3 linked regions of the Homo sapiens genome follow. The protein of the gene in region 2 interacts with the protein of the main gene of each other region in a pairwise test. Each region holds a gene or a part of one and is shown on either strand. Other genes may lie near its edges.

Region 1 (3,651 bases), on a different chromosome or scaffold from region 2:
TGGATCATGGTGGCAGATTTCCCCTTGGTGCTCTGATAGTGAGTGAGTGCTTGCAAGATCTGTTTTTTTTTTTGTTTTTTGTTTTTTTTAAAGTGTGGCACCTCCCCGCTCCTTCTCTCTTCCTCCTGCTCTGGCCATGTGAAGTTCTTACTTCCCCTTTCCCTTCCCCTTCCACCATGATTGTAAGTTTCCTGAGGCCTTCCCAGAAGCCACTATGCTTCCTGTACAGCCTGCAGAACTGTGAGCCAATTAAATCTCTTTTCTTTATAAATTATACAGTCTCAGATATTTCTTTGCAGCAATGTGAAAATGGACTAATACAGTAATAAATAGGAAGGGATGAATACAAAAAGGGCAATGAGGAAACTCAGTTTCTGGTCTGGGCATTTCCATGAGCTAGTTGTATGATCTTGGGCAACTCAATTATTCTCTAGGCCTAATTTTTTCATTTGGAAAAAAGGGAAGAGATAAGATTAGGTATCTTAAACATTTTTAAAGATTTTTAAGATCCTACTAAGTTTTTTAAAAAGCACTACAGTGCTGGGCGCAGTGGCTCACACCTTTAATTCCAGCACTTTGGGAGGTCGAGGCCGGTGGATCACCTAAGGTCAGGAGTTCGAGACCAGCCTGACCAACATGGTGAAACCCTGTCTCTACTAAAAGTACAAAATTAGCCAGGCATGGTGGCGTGCGCCAGTAATCCCAGCTACTCAGGAAGCTGAGGCAGAAGAATCACCTGAACCCAGGAGGCAGAGGTTGTAGTGCGCTGAGATTGCGCCATTGCACTCTAGCCTGGGCGACAAGAGCAAGACTCCATCTCAAAAAAAGAAAAAAAAAAGCACTACAAATTCTGTATTATTGGTAAAATGTCCATTGTTACAATCCTTTGACCCAGAAAGTCTTCTAAGAATTATCCCACAAATGTACTGGCCCATGTGAGCAAAGATTCATAAATGTGGACAAGTAAGTTCACTGGCATTTATACTAGCAAAAGGCCTACAGAGAAAATAATTAAACGTTCAGTAGAAAGCTAGTTTAAAAAATTATAGCCATCTACAAAATGGAATACTATGAAGTCATCTGAAAGACCGAGGAAATGATATGGAACAACTTCCAAAAGATATGGTTATGTGAACAAAGCATGGCAGAGAATGGTGTGTATAGTGTGTCATTTTAACTTTTAACAAAGGGGACAGTAACACAGACACAAACACATGGATGTGTGTGTGTGTATACACATATATATATACACACACACACACAAAAATATATATATATACACACACAAAAAATTCTTGTTTATGCAAAGAATATTTCTAATTGGATAAACAAGAAACTGGAATTGGATACATAAGAAACTGGTAGTAGCTGTTGCTTCTGGGAGGGCAACGAGCAGTTTAAGGTAGAAGAAAGATTGAACTTTTCATTGTAAACTATTTTCTCACTGTCTGATTTTTACCATGTATAGCTTTTTCATTAAATAAAGAAAAAAAACCCACAAAATTTTTACTTGAAAATACTTATATTCGCTACATTTTCAATTAGTCAAAAAACTTTATTTACCAAATATGTAATATTATCTGAGAAAAGATTGTTTTATGCAAATATTTTTCAAATTACCTTGAAAAGCCTGGGAAACACATCTGCTGGTTGTCCACGAATCACAAACAGACGGGAGTTTAATTTTCGTAGATTGGCATCAAGATCCTCAAGACACTGAAGCAAAAATCTAGAGAGAAGAAAGTATTATTTAAATTATTAAAAAATACATATTTAGAAGACATAAATTATTACAAAGTCATGTTATTCTAAAAGTTGAAATGCCAACCTATCATCTTATTACCTCCTATTGATATATACTTTTTCCAAAAACCATACTAATATATATTTTTTAATTATAGCACAAATTACCTAGTATTTTAATAAAATACTGAATAAAATCACTAATTTTCATTAAATAAAAGTGACTATTAGCAAAAATTTAATTTGTGAACATAAAAACATACAAAGAAGTATCAAAGCAATTAAATTGGTTTCATTGTTTAAACTTGATGAAATATTTTCTGTATGAAAATGGCTTTTCATATAGAAAGGAAAACTTGAAAAATCTAGAATATCTTCTGCTGGGGGGAAAAAACCAGAAACATCCTATGTAATGAATAAGCAAGTGAATAATTTAAGAATATCATGGTAAAAAGGAATCTGAGGGGACAAAAAAAAAAGATTATGAGTACTTTTTTGTAATATTGTAATCATTTAAGAGATTGAAATCATAATGCCCATTTTCAAGTTTCTAATTTATTAAAAAAAGAAACTAATAAGTAGATGCCAAATTATGTGGTTATTAATTCCCTGAGTGTAGAAAATGCCAGATTAACTTCTAAAAAAAAAAAAAAAGAAAAGGTTTCATGGAGTTGGGGTGGAGATTATAGACTTTTTCAATGAAATAAGTAGTAACAAGGCTTACACATGACAGATATCTAGGAAAATTCTGGGGCAGTACCAGAAGACTGCTTACTGTGCATCTTCTGTTGCGAAGAAATGGAACATTCCCAAGAACAAATTTAAAAGAGATGTCACCCATGGAAGGTCCAATCTTATTATTTGACTCATGTTAAGTTTCATTTAGATTCTGTTCTTTTCAGCTGGACGTATCTTATTTCCTATTTTGCTTCTTTTATGTTTTTGATCTCAAGGTTAAGTATTTGTCTGCCTTTTTCACAGGCCACATGGTCTTTCAGAATAGCAATTATCTCTTACTTGTGAAGAGGAGTGATTAAGAAGCAGGGAAATGCAAATTCTAGAAGTGCACTATCTAATATGGTAACCAAAAGGCACATGTAGCCATTTAAATTTAAGTTAGTTAAATTTAAAAATCAGTTCCTTAGTCACACTTGCCACATTTCAAGTCCTCAACAGCCACATGTATAGCTGGTGGCTGGCTACCATACTGAACAGTATAGCTACAGAACATTTCCATCATTGCAGAAAGTTCTACTGGACAGATTGTTCTAAAAAGCTGCTTGGTCTAGATCATTTTGTTCGCTTTACACATTCCGATACCATCATTTCACCAAATAAGTCTTGTTGATTTTTTACAACTGTAGTTATTAGTGACATAAGTGCACTAGTCAGGTCTGACACTTCTTCCTCTTTAGGAGCACCATCTGTACAGCTTGAAGAGTCAAGGTGCTATATTTTTATGAGGATGTTAAAGACATCCCACCATTTCACCTTAGGAAGTCTCATGGGTTTCCAAGTAGGAAGCAAACCTTTCTATCCCCACATTTATATTTTATCACATCCCTTTTCTGCCTTGGTTTGGAGTCACCTCCCTAACACCTGATCCCCATCCTAACCCACCACTACCAATGTACAAATATTTCAGGGGAGAAGACTGTTGTTGTTAGATGGATAGTGATATAAAAGCATTGGAGTTTAATAAAATTATCTCCAACTATGAATAATTTATCATGTCTGGTGACAAATGTTTATTGGGAAGCATCTAATTTTATGTATTTGCTTGGCAAGAAGAGTTACTAGACAGAACAAAGATCGAAGGGTTTTTACACAGATCAAAAATTAAGAAGTTGAAAGAACTAGCAATTTTAAGTTTTCTTAAATTGAAACAGTACAAAACTTAAATGTCCT
Region 2 (3,651 bases):
AAAATGCATACATTTTTATTTCCCTCGGGGAGTATTTTAAACTTAAGTAAGTCTCTTTCCTTTGGGAATGAAGGCGATAGGCCCGGCGCCGTGGCTCACACCTCTGTAATCCCAGCACTTTGGGAGGCCAAGGTGGGCGGATCATGAGGTCAGAAGACCCAGACCATCTTGGCCAACATGGTAAAACCCCGTCTCTACTAAAAATACAAAAATTAGCTGGGCATGGTGGCGTGCGCTTGTAGTCACAGCTACTCGGGAGGCTGAGGCAGAAGAATTGCTTGAACCCGGGAGGTGGAGGCTGCAGTGAGCCAAGACTGTCCCACTGCACTCCAGCCTGGGCGGCAGAGCAAGACTCCGTCTCAAAAAACAAAAACCAAAAAAACAAAATGAAGGTTATATCAATATCAAAAAAACGAGTTTGCAAACTTTTTATTTTGCTTCTAAAAGTAGTTGTACAAAATCCTCCTACCTGTGCATGGAAGAGTGATAAGCTCCTGACAGTGTGTAAAGGGATCAATACTTTCACCAGAAACTGTTTGTGTTCTGCCTTAAGAGGTAAAGCAAAGCCATTGATAATACTAGGGAGAAAAAAGAGACACAAATTAGCAATGTTACCACAAGTTGAACTGAGACAAACTGTTCTTGTGATATTAATTAAACTTAATCAGTTTGTTTGTACAAAACAACATAATACCCACCCCAGTGGCATTCAGAATTTCCTTTTTTTTTTTTTTTTTTTTTTTTTTGAGACAGAGTCATCTTGCTCTATTGCCCAGGCTGGAGTGCAGTGGCCCAATCTCAGCTCACTGCAACCTTCGCCTCCGGGATTCAAGCTATTCCTATGCCTCAGGCCTCCCAAGTAGCTGGGATTACAGGCACCCACCACCATGCCTGGCTAATTTTTTTGTATTTTTAGTAGAGAAGGAGTTTCACCATATTGTCCAGACTGGTCTAGAACTCTTAACTGCAAATGATCTGCCCACCTTGGCCTCCCAAAGTGCTGGGATAATAGGCGTGAGCCACCACACCCAGCCAGGATTTCTTAATGACTTCAAGGAATACAAAAAGTTGGAAGGAAATTTAAGAGAAGAAAATTTGCTTCTGGTCACCCAACAAAGGCTCCTGTGCTCCTAAAATTAGTCAGATGGTTTCCAAAAGCTCTTTATCAAAACCCTTTATTTTCCCTCCCTTTTCCTTCTCCAAATAATGGCCCGCCTTGCTTGCTTCCGCCTTAAATATGACCTTTTCCATTTCCAGACATCATTCCTTCTCATTCCTGAAACCTCTGCCCAGCCTAGGGAAATCACTGAGAGAAAGCCATGTGACTCCACCTTCTTTTTCTCTTCATATTAGGAGAAAAGATTAAGTAATCATATTGTCCAGCTACATTATCCTCCCTTGTGTGTAGAAACTTACACCACAGCTCTTTCCAATTCATTCCACTACTCCAGGCTGCAGCTGTTCAAGGACTATACCTGGATACACAACTCCTTTGAAAATGGCAATCTTTCCAATTTATTATAAACTTGCTTTCAACAGATAAGGCAAAGGACCAGATAGCCTAAAAACTAATGAGAATAAGATGTTTTGGAGTAACTAGCCTGACCACAATTAGATGTACCATCTTTCTAGTAATGAATGAACTGTCAGCTCTTTCAGTCATTCCAGTGGAAATGGCAATGCATACTTGTGGAACAAGGGGAACAGGAAATTGTGTCTTGTAGAGTCAGCTGGAAAATATGCTAATAGGCACAAATGAGAGAGACCCAATGTACATACAGCAAGAGAACTAGGTGAGCATCTCTTGGTGCCACCTGAACCTAATTTTTAAAATAATATTCATCTGAGATTAGCAATTAGAAAAACCGTGCTCACCTTCCTAATATTTCCAGCAGTTCAGCTACACCATTGAAGTGTTCTGTTTCATAAACAAACCTGAGAGAAGAGGAGAAAAGGGAGGAGAAAGGAGGAGAGGAGGAGGAGAAGGAAGGGATAAAAAGAGGAGGAGGAGGAGGAGAAGGGGGAGGAGGAGGAGAAGAGGAGGAGGAGGAGGAGAGCGGGGAAGAGAGGAGGAGAGGGAGGACAAGGGGGAAGAGAGAAGGAGGAGGAGGAGGGGGGAAGAGAGGAGGAGGAGAGGAGGGGGGAAGAGAGGAGGAGGAGAGGAGGGAAGAGAGGAGGAGGAGAGGAGGGAAGAGAGGAGGAGAGGAGGGAAGAGAGGAGGAGAGGAGGGAAGAGAGGAGGAGAGAGGGGAAGAGAGGAGATGGGGGAGAGATGGGGGAAGAGAGGAGAGGGAGGAGAAGATGGGGAGAGAGGGGGAGGAGAGGAGGGAAGAGCGGAGGAGAGAGGGGAGAAGAGGGGGGAGGAGAGGGTGGAAGGGAGGAGGAGCAGAGGGAAAAGGGAGGAGGAGGGGGGAAGAGAGGAGGAGACGGGGGAGAGATGGGGGGAAGAGAGGAGGAGAGGGAGGAGGAGAGGAGGAGGAGGGGGAGGGGGAGAAAAGGAGGGAAGAGAGGAGTCGGGGAGGAGAGGAGAAGGGGGGAAGAGAGGAGGGGAGCGGGAAGATGGGGGAGGGAGAGGTGGGGGAAGAGAGGAGGACAGGGAGGAGAAGAGGAGGAGAAGGGGGAGGGGGAGAAAAGGAGGGAAGAGACGGGGGAGGAGAGGAGAAGGGGGGAAGAGAGGGGAGGGGGAAGATGGGGGAGGGAGAGGTGGGGGAAGAGAGGAGGAGAGGGAGGAAAAGAGGAGAAGGGGGAGGGGGCAGGAGAGGAGGAGAGCGGGGAGGAGAGGAGGAGAGGGAGGGAGAAAGGAGGAGGACAGGGGATAGAGGAGGAGGAGGAGAGAGGAGAGGAAAAGAGGAGAGGAGGAGGAGATGGGGGAGGAGGAGAAGGGGGAGGAGAAAAGCAGGGGAGAGGGAAGAGGAGGGGGAAAGTAGGGGGAGAGGAGGGATAGAGAAGAAGCAGTGGGGGGAGGAGGGAGAGGAAGAGGAAAAGAGGAGGAAGAGGAGGGTGGGAGGAGAAGATGGGGGAGGAGAGGAGAAGATGGGGGAGGAGAGGAGAAGATGGGGGAGGAGAGGAGGGGGAGGGGGTAGAGGAAGAGGCAGGAGAGTCAGTAGAATGAAGGAAGGCAGGCAGAAAGGGAGAAAGAGAAGTCAGTACACCGTTTTCAGATATTTGAGATTTACTTAATACTCATAAAAACACCAACTTTGCTTCTCCTTCTTCCCCCATCACACTCCACTTACCTTAGAAAAATATTGTTAATCTGTTTTCGGATAAATGCTCTAAGACCAAGAAACTTGCCATAAATTCTGTGTAAGACTGTTTTTAAGTAGTCCCGTTCCCGAGGGTCTTCGCTGTCAAATAGCTCCAGAAGCTGTTGTAAATGAAAGACATTATAGCTGTCAAAGGCGGTTTCAGAAAAGGATTTAGGAATTCTATTATTTAAAATCCCCTTCTTCCTTCCTCAAAAAATGTGTTGAATATCTATTATGTGCCAAGCACAGTGCTAGTCTTTGGGCATATCATGATAAACAAGTCAGACAAGGAGCTTATATTCCACTAAAGAAATACAAATACAAAATAACAACAATAAAAGTAATAATATGAATAATAGCTAATACACATATGGCACTTACTGTGATCATCAGGCAATTTTCCA
Region 3 (3,651 bases), on a different chromosome or scaffold from region 2:
CCCTGGTAATCACGGGGACATCCCTAATCAAGGATGGATGATCCATTCAAGAATTCCAGAGATGGACTGGCCTATGAGGATCACACAGGCCAGTGATGCCTGGCCTCTTGGGGTAAAAACTGAGTCTACTACCCAGGAAAATGCACATTCTTATTTCTATCAGGGAAATTGCTCCAACAGACAGGTTTCCAAATTCCCACTCAAAGTATCATGATCCTCCCTCCTAGGGAAATAGAGTTTGGTGCTGGCTGTTTTCCATTTGCCTGGCCAGATCCACTCTCCCCCTTCTCTACCCGTCCCTGGCTCCTGGGAGGCTGATGCCTGGGGACTACTCCAGCAGACAGCCCACTCGGCCTCCCTGATGGGTCCAGCTGGTGGAAGGCGCTGGCCAGGAGCAAGAGTTGGGGTGAGGAGTTAGGGCCAAGCGGTATTCTTCCACTTTGCAGAAGCTCAGGCAGCCGTCTCCATACCTTCCCCCCAGCTAATTAGTCTCCCTCCCCTTCCCCCTTCAAGTCTACCCTCCCCCAGCTGTTACTAACCCCAGGCCCCTGCACCAACCCTCTCACTCTTCCTAACTCCTGCCCATGGCTTGTAAACAATCTGTTTTTCAAACTCTCCTCAAAACACCCATTTTAAGTGTGTCATCTGTTTCCTCCAAGACCATGATGGGTATAATCATATTTACATTCATTGCATATAATACATATATATATTCGCTATATATGTTATGTATTATGTTGTTATTATGCTTTAACCTAAAGACCATGGTCCCTATGTCAGGGTTAACAAAATTCACTACACAGTTTCTAGTGGGTATCCATGTGTTTGGTCCATGATGAAAAATAAATCTTGTTGCTTTGCCCCCAGAGAAGATGTATACCATCCTAATACTCTCAGGAAGTGGTTTGTCCCATGCTTAGGGTCAATTAAGGTCATCCAGGTGTAGCCCAAAGCCCCTGGAGGCTGGGAATCAATTTTAACTTCAATCTAGAACTTCTGCTTTCCTATAGGTTCTAAATAGAAGCAGGGCAATCCCCTTTCAAGCTGGAAGGATGTTGGGGAATCTGTCGCATGCTGATCCGCAGGCCTAGGCACACCCTCTGCCCTTGCCTGCCCCCAAGATGTGGAAAGAGGCCCCCGAGTTCAGGGGCACAGATTCTCCAAAGGGCAAAACCTCACATCTTTGGCTGGGGCTCTAAGCAATACGGGTAGTGCTGAAATCCTGTTTGGACACTGTGCTACCTCAGGAATCCAACAGTAGTTGTAACCCTGCAGCCACTTTCTATTTCTTGGGTCCTGAAATTCCCATCTGGTTGGGGTGTTAAAGTCTCTGATGGGGCACAAGTCACCTCTGATTTGGTGTTGTTCCTGATACGGACACATACTACACAAAACTTTCTGCAAGTGACCTCAAGGTTTTCAGGGAGCCTCTGAAGTGTATCCATAGACTGGTGGGAGGCAGAAAACCTGTAATCAGAATGATGCAATTTGTGAACCCCAGCTCTGCCATTTCCTGGACAAGTTACTTCACTTCTCTGAGCCTCAAGTCAAGGATAATGGAGATAATAACATTCCTGCCTACCCGCCAGGGTGGTTGTAGAGATTAGATGAGGTCATTCCGGAAAGCATAGCACCAGACCCAGCACATAGGCCAGTCAATAAAGTGTGGCTGTCATCATCACATATTGAAATTAAGGCCCAGAAGGGAAGGGATCTGGGCAGTGTTGCAAAGCAGGGTGGCAGAGGCGAAGCTGGGCCCAGACTTCTAGAGCCCAGCTCGGTGCTCCCACACTTAGCCTTGATGGTGCTCCCCCATACCTGAACAGCAATGCCCAGTAACACTCACTACAGAGCCTTGCAGACACCAAGGCAAGGCAGCAGCTGCTCCACGCCAATGTCACCCACAGAGTTGTAGTCCAGCTGCAGGGCCACGGGCCGCCGGAGGTGCTGCAGCACAAAGGCCAGGGCAGCACACTCAGTGGGGCCCACACTGCAAAATGTCAACTTGAGGTGCCCAACATTCAGGCCACGTGCAGCCTTCCGAGCCAGCCGCTCCTCCTGCATCTCGTACAGGCTCCGGATGAGCCAGATGAACCCGGGCATGGCATGCACGCTCTTGGCCTCACCCGGTGCAGCTGGCGGGATGGAGTGGAAGTGCTTGCGGAGGCTGCGGGCCAGACACCAGCGGGCACAGGCCTGGCGCCGGAGCAGGGCCTTCTCAGATGTCTGGCACTCAGCCAGCAGGCCCCAGTGCTCCCGGGACAACAGCCCTGCCAGGAAGGCTGCTGTGATCTGAAGGTTGTGCGGCTCGGCCTTCTGCAGCAAAGCTGCCACGCTGCTGTCCTTTCCCTCCGAGGCCTGGATGCACATCGTGGGCAGGAGCCTGGCCATTGGTGAGTTGCCTGGCCTGCCACAATTGAAGAGGTGTCTGAGCAAAGCTGGTGGCACATCAGCACTGAGTGCCAGGTAGAACGCGGCAAAGAAGCACTGGAAAGTGATGTGAAGGAATTCCAGGGGCGCCGTACTCCCTGGCACGACACCTTTGGCACGCACCAGGAAGCCAAGAGAAATGTCATCAGGGCTGACCTGTGCTGCCTGGAGCTGCTGGGCTGAGAACACGTAGCAGCACATGCCCAGGCCCCACAGAGCCAGTCTGCCCAGGTGCAGGAGGGTGGGGAGGCGGCCCCGAAGAAGACTGGGTCCCAGACCTTGGGAAGCTGAGTCTGGGGGGGTGGCATGCAGCAGAAAATGCTGCAGAATCAGCAGGTACATATCTGTAGTGGTCTTTGGGGACCCCCCCTCCTGCAGCAACAGTTCCTGGTGGCATTTGGACACCATCCATGAGAAGACAGGCAGGTGGCACAAACCGTGCAGGGCTGAGGTCTCTTGGAGCAGGCGGATGAGGCGGTCCGCCACCCCGGGCTCATGATGGCGCTTCCTCAGGTACAGCTCGATGCCCTGTTCAGAGAAGCCCTTGAGGTTGAACTCGGTGCGGATGTACTTCCTGAGGAACGCCGACACAGCGGCCGGACGGCTGGTCACCACCTTGCGGGCATTCTTCAGCAGGTTGCCCTGCAGAAGGTTGAAGAGCAGGGTCTGGACAGAGGTGGGGTCGGTCGGGGAGCAGTGGCGTTCACGATCCGTGAACCTGAACTTGAACTCGTCAAAGCCATCAAAGGTTAACAGGACACGGTCAGGGTGGTCAAGGAGTAACTGGAAGATGTCTTCTTGACCAACATCAGGCCAACAGCAGTGCTCAAAGAGTAGAGTCCGCACAGAGAGTGGTTTGGCCATGCACTGCAGCTGCCGGCAGCTGAATGGGAAGACAAAGAGAAATTCCTGGAAGTCTTGCCCTGCAGCCCACAGCAAGTGCAGCCGCTGCAGGAGCGTGCTCTTGCCACTGCCCGCCTCACCCACCACCAGCACAGTGTCCGCATCGTCATTGAGGTGGCCAGGGGTGCTGAAGAGCTCCTCCAGGCCCAGGGTGGCTGGGCTCTTCTGCGGGGGTCCAGCCATGCCCACATCTGCCCAGACCTCCAGGACATTCTCTGTGTATATGTCCTCCAGGCAGAGCGTCTCTGCTCCATCATAGGTACTGAGGAAGCGAGACTGAGCAGACACCGTGGTCCTCAGCTTGGCCATATACTTCTT

Evidence for each region.
Region 1: the proteins of PPP2R5E (region 2) and CRY1 interact in a two-hybrid assay, tested with the Homo sapiens proteins (one study listed by BioGRID).
Region 3: the proteins of PPP2R5E (region 2) and NOD2 interact in a two-hybrid assay, tested with the Homo sapiens proteins (one study listed by BioGRID and IntAct).

Annotation. Positions count from the first base shown.
Region 1 is NC_000012.12:107,020,464-107,024,114, forward strand, and holds part of CRY1 (cryptochrome-1), read right to left. Parts: intron 1,730-3,651; coding exon 1,621-1,729; intron 1-1,620.
Region 2 is NC_000014.9:63,393,351-63,397,001, forward strand, and holds part of PPP2R5E (serine/threonine-protein phosphatase 2A 56 kDa regulatory subunit epsilon isoform), read right to left. Parts: intron 3,367-3,651; coding exon 3,236-3,366; intron 1,936-3,235; coding exon 1,876-1,935; intron 579-1,875; coding exon 470-578; intron 1-469. UniProt on the Homo sapiens protein: The B regulatory subunit might modulate substrate selectivity and catalytic activity, and might also direct the localization of the catalytic enzyme to a particular subcellular compartment.
Region 3 is NC_000016.10:50,710,569-50,714,219, reverse strand, and holds part of NOD2 (nucleotide-binding oligomerization domain-containing protein 2), read right to left. Parts: coding exon 1,847-3,651; coding exon of another isoform or gene 1,846-1,846; exon of another isoform or gene 1,583-1,845; intron 1,468-1,582; coding exon of another isoform or gene 1,467-1,467; exon of another isoform or gene 631-1,466; intron 1-630. UniProt on the Homo sapiens protein: Pattern recognition receptor (PRR) that detects bacterial peptidoglycan fragments and other danger signals and plays an important role in gastrointestinal immunity.